Linked DNA regions of Homo sapiens: region 1 is linked to region 2. The links come from fine-mapping of genetic effects on gene expression. A gene starts in region 2. The other region holds a variant in brackets. All regions are shown on one strand. Distances are between the middles of the regions. Region 1 overlaps TRIM6-TRIM34 (TRIM6-TRIM34 readthrough). Region 2 holds the start of UBQLNL (ubiquilin like).

The links.
Region 1: its variant is fine-mapped to the expression of UBQLNL in whole blood (TOPMed, PIP 0.96).

What each region holds. Positions count from the first base shown.
Region 1 is chr11:5,643,722-5,646,543 of GRCh38, forward strand. It overlaps TRIM6-TRIM34 (TRIM6-TRIM34 readthrough), which reads left to right. Exons shown (of 14, transcript NM_001003819.4): 14 at 1-677. TRIM34 (tripartite motif containing 34) reads left to right here. Exons shown (of 8, transcript NM_021616.6): 8 at 1-677. It also overlaps a transcript of TRIM5 not described here. Among named protein-coding and RNA genes, the nearest start is that of TRIM34, 20 kb to the left of the region's middle. The variant C/G (reference allele first, on the strand shown) is at 1,690.
Region 2 is chr11:5,515,395-5,518,186 of GRCh38, forward strand. It overlaps UBQLNL (ubiquilin like), which reads right to left and starts at 1,305. Exons shown (of 1, transcript NM_145053.5): 1 at 1-1,305. The coding sequence starts at 1,047.

The DNA of each region.
Region 1 (2,822 bases), 130 kb after region 2:
CTTCACCTACAACCCTTTGTCTTGACTTATCTCCTGCAACTGACTCATCTGCAACATTCACACCATTGCTTCCTTGTGGTTTCCCTTCTTTAGAACTTTTACTCATCCTTGAGATGTATGGTGTATTTGGCTTGAGTTATGAGAGATGCTTATTTATTCATTTACTCTTTTTCATATTTTCAGAGAAAGTTACCTAATCCCTCCTAAAGACACAGCAGTATGGGTATAACATCCTTGCCTTCCCATTTATCCATGTTTCACTTTATCACTGATATGAAGAGGCCCAAAGCCTGTTAGCCACCATCCATGCTACCTAGGTAGTCCATAGGAACCACCCCCATGACCACCACCAACATCAACTAAAGGTTCTTGGAGGGTATGTCAGTGTGTTGCTCAGGATACCCCAGGTACATCAAGGAATCAAGGAGAGGAAAATATGAGCAATATGTGTATTCAGAGTGAAGATTTTATGTCCAGAGTATTTGAGCTCAAACCTTGCCTGTTGTTTTCTAATCATGATGAATACTTTCTCAGTTTCTTTTTCCTGAAATATAAATTGGGATTTAAGACTGTACCTAACTATTAAGATCACTGTGTAAAACTAAGTGTCTCTAAATGTAATGCATCGATTTAGTGTCTGGAACATAATAAATATTTGCTCTCATGATTGCTAAAAAGTGTGAGCTGTAGTAATGTCCTGTGCAATAGTTTTGTGGCCTTCAGAGGAATAGTAGTTGATTTTACTGAAGTCTCATTTTTCAAGTTCCCAGACTCCACTGTTAAGACCACTCCAATTTTAGTTTTGTTTTATAGAACTTTTTATACTGAGAGTGGGACTGTTTTTTTTCTTTTTTATTGTACATATTTAAGATATATATACTATGATGTTTTGATACACACTTACATGGTAAAGTGATTACTACAGCCAAGTAAATTATACATCCACTGTATCATATAGTTACCGTGTGTCGGGGGGGTGGTGGTTAGTGCATTTAAAATCTTTCTTAGCAAATTCCCAGTAGACAATACAATATTAACTAGAATCCTTGAAATAGTTGGGATTTTTGTCCTGCCCAAATCTCATGTTGAAATGTAATCCCCAGTGTTGGAGGTGGGGCCTGGTGGGAGGTGATTGGATCATGGGGGCCTCATGGAGGGCCTCGCACCATCCCCATGGTAATGAATACATTCTTGCTGTGAGTTCTTGGGAGATCTGGTTATTTAAGAGTGTGGCACTTCCTCCTGTCTCTGTATTGTTCCCACTCTTGCCAGAGATGTTCCTGTTCCTGCTAATGTTAGGATAAAAAAGTGATTATATTTGACAAAAAAAATTTAAGTTAGTACAACAATAAAAAAGTACGATAGGCTGGGTGCCTTGGCTCATGCCGGTAATCCCAGCCAGCACTTTGGGATCCCAGCCAGCACTTTGGGAGGCCGAGAAGAGAGGATCACGTGAGGTCAGGAGTTCAAGACTGGCCTGGCCAAAATTGCAAAACCCTGTCTCTACTAAAAATACAAAAATTAGCTGGATGTGGTGGCGAGCCCCTGTAATCCCACCTACTTGGGAGGCTGAGGCATGAGAATCGCTTGAACCTGGGAGGCGGAGGTTGCAGTGAGCTGAGATTGCACCACTGCACTCCAGCCTGGGCAACAAGAGCAAAACTCTGTCTCAAAAAAAAAAAAAAAAAA[C/G]TGTGAAAAAAGTGGTTTGTTATATAGATCACCAAAAAATTATGAAACATTGTCATACAATTCAATGCTAGGTTTTAAATCTCTGTAAAATGAATAGGTTAAAATTAACAATCTTACAATCAGGAAGAAGCAGAAAATTCCGTAGAACCACAATAATAAAATGATGTAAACATTATAAAATTATATGTGTTCAAGTGCATAGAATGAGAGTACTTTTGAAGGTCTAATGTTTTGGGTCAGTTCTACAATCAGGAAGAAAAAAAGACAGGCCTACCTTTCCTTCTTCAGAAGAGAGTGGGGACAGAGGAGATTTGATGAGGGTCAAGTCTAGGAAAAGCTTCACTTTTGCTCATTGTATGTTGATTCTCTGGATACATTCCCACCTGTTCTTTGCCCTGATGATGAGACTTTTACCCAGATGTGACAACTGCTCTCTTCATCTCATCTAGTCTTCTGGAAAAAAAAAAAAAATATATATATATATATCTATATATAGATATATATAGATATATATATAGATATATAAAACATGTATATTAAATGTATATTAATATGTGTATGTATTTATAACATATGTGTAATTTATAATTATATATAATACATATATACATATGTATAGTACACATAAATATATTAGATTATATATGTATAATACATATAAATGTATACATTTTAATATACATGTATATTATATAAATATACATATACACACGTACACACACACATATCCCCAAATACACCAACCACCCTCATGTTTCTTCCCAGAATTCCAACCACCAGAGGCACAGCTTTTTTGGAAATATCATTTTACCACAGTAGCACTGGATGTCTGTCCACTCTGAAATGATAAAAATTCATAATATTGACTATATGCAAAGGAGGCAGCACTGACGTCAATTTTTTCTCCAGAACAGAGAAAGAGGAGGGGACTATGTTAGGGCAATGAATTTGCGAATAATAGCATGAAACAGTCTCTTGGTTATTCTCCATCAAATATGACCACATCATCAGCACACAATGTCCATCCTCCCTTATCTCTTCCATCTACGCCTAGAAACTGCTCTCTTCCCTGTCTAGCACCTGCCACCACTAGACTACTGCAGATCTAGTTGTTCTAGCTCTTCTCATCTTTA
Region 2 (2,792 bases):
AAGGGTGTCATTGGCTGAGGTGTTTGAAGAGAAACCACCAGAGCTATTATAGATGACTCGGGTTGCAGGATGCTGTGTGAGCTGGTCTTGTTGTTCCTGTGATGGTGGTGGAGGTGGGGGTGAAGACTGGACTTGTTCTAGCACTTGTCCTGCCAGGAGAGCTGTGAAAGGGTTTCCTCCAAAAGGATCTTGCATGCTGTTCAGCATTTGATCATTGATATCAGCATAGTTCTGACCCAGGGCATTATTCCCACCTGGCATTGTCTCTAAGCCCAGATATGGCTGTGGGTTCAGTGGATACTCAAGGTTTTGTGAAGGTTGTTGGATCTGCATTATCTCTTGGATCATAGCAAGGTTCCTGGCCAGCTCCAGAGTCTGCAATAGGATCTCAGAATTATCAAGAAGAAGGCGGGAAACTTCTGGGTTCTGCTGCATCAATTGTTGCGTGTCTAGATGTTCTGAAATGAACTGCCACATGAACTCCATGTTGGACAGAAGCCGCTGGATGCTAGGATTCTCCAGCATCTGTGCTTTGCACTCTGGGTGGCTCACTTCCAAGTTTTGGGTATGCACTTTGGGTGCATCAGACCCCACAAAGTGGGCCAGTTCCACTGGAGCTTGATTCATACCAGTTGGTTGGTGCACTCTGCTGCTGTTTCCTTTGGTGTTTCTGTCCCGGTGGCAGGGATCATTCGTTGGCAGGTCCCGGAAGGAATGGGCTAGAGATCTGGAGCCCTGCTTGGACTTGATGACCAAGTAGATGGTGTGGCCATCCATGATGCCCCTCTGGCTCAGTGTGTCATGGTCTTTGAGAAGGCAACCCATGAAGACCAGCACTAGTTGGTCCATCTGGCATTGGAAGTGAGCCAATAGCATCTCCTTGAACTGCCTTACCGAGATGTCATCAGCTACCATAAAGTCTTTCTGGTTGCCTGCAGTCTTCACTATCACTCGAGTGGCACTTGAAGAGATATTTTTGTCTGCCAGCAGACCTGATGGACATCCACTCTGGGACATCCTGGATGTTCGAGAGATGGCATGCCACATGGGCTTTAGTGGGTGGGCAGATGGGGAGCAGGTGGAAGCTGGGGCAGAAAGGGTGAGGGCAGACAAATGTTTCTGCTGGCCTTTGTCTCAGGTATTGTGCTCTCAGGCCACAGGATAGTTTCCTTGTTGCCCTAAAAGGGATGAGTGACCAGACTGGGGCCAGATATTTTGTGATGTTGTGCCCTCACCCCAGTTCTCCAGATGTGGCCCAGCTGAGGCCTGGCATAGCTACTGATTCATAATTCACCCATGGTGGACAAAGTGGTGATGACTTCTCCTAGGGCTACCCCTCCTCCTACCCCACCCACCAGGGGCATGAATCCTCAGAAAAGGGATATTGTGATGTCAACTCTATCCTCGCAGTCACCCTGGGCCAGCTGGGGAAGGAGGACATATTTAGGGGTCCAGGGCTCTACAATAAAATAAAATAATTTTCCAGAAAACAGGGACAAAGTTCTCTGGATGGAACTAGTAAGAAAACAAAAAAGTAAATAAAAACCATATTTTTAAATGTGGGATGTGTGTTTCCGTGTGATACTGTGTGTATGTTCCTTATAGGGATGTTAGACTTGTATGAAAAGTTGGGTCTACTGAAGCCATAGATAAAGCCACATTCCTATAAGAATGCAGTCTCTCCCATAGGAAGGAGCGCATTAATTTTTTTAATGATCTGGAAATTTGGGTCTTATATAGAGTCTAGATTTTGGGATTCTATATTTAATTGTGCTCCCATGTGGTGGGGAAAATTTTCCTCTGTCCTAGGAAGCAGGAGTAGGGCTAACCAGGAAGGCTCTTCATAGGCACATGCCAAACTAAATGTGAATTAGCTCTTTTTTATAATATGCCTTTTATTCACATATCACTTGGTCTCTTCTACATGTCAATATAACAGAAGTTTTAGAATGATTTGTTTCAATGTCCTAACCCACTCTTGTGTGCCCACCTTTATGTCAAAGCATTAAGGGGGAATGTCGTCTGTAAATCAAGAGGTGGGAGAGGAGGTGGTTAGTAGTAAAATTCTTAAGGGGACAAATACAGGCAACTAAAAAGCTGGATTCTTGGTCCCATGTAAATTTGGAGAATTGTGTTTGGTTTTTATTTAGATGCAGATGGAAATAATTATTTATATGAGTGAGAGTGTACATGTCTTATCGAATGTATATATGAAATTGTATGCATATTCTGTGTTACTAGGAAGCCTTCAGGGTCTGGATTTTATATATTCCATCCACCTGCCTGGAGAGGGAGGAGCACCACACAGATAGCTAAGGAACAAGCAAAAAGCTCGAGCCCATATGTTCCCAGTGTGTTGAAGACAAGCAAAGGGATGATAGGCCGTTGGCCAGGAGACCTTCTGCTATCAAACCAATGATTCTTTATTGAGAATATCTAGACCCCCAGCACCATCCATGTCAGATCCTCATCATGCTATAAGGCCAGTTGCTAACTTACTACAGCAAGACTCAGGCCTATTCTCTTGCAATTGCACTCAAAAGTGAGATCGATCCAGGACAATGAAAAATTGATTACCAGACCAAGATCTTGCCCCTTTTCTCCCCAGGGACCTCACAGGAAGGTGGAGATAAGAAAGGGAACTTTCATATCCTACTCTAATGACCAGCTGCCCTGCAGCTTCTGCACTGGAATCAGGTGTTCCCAACCTGAGATTGACAATTCTAGATCACAGAACTCTTGAGTTCCGGGAGCTGGATTTATGAAAAAAGGAATATGAGATGCCAAAGCAT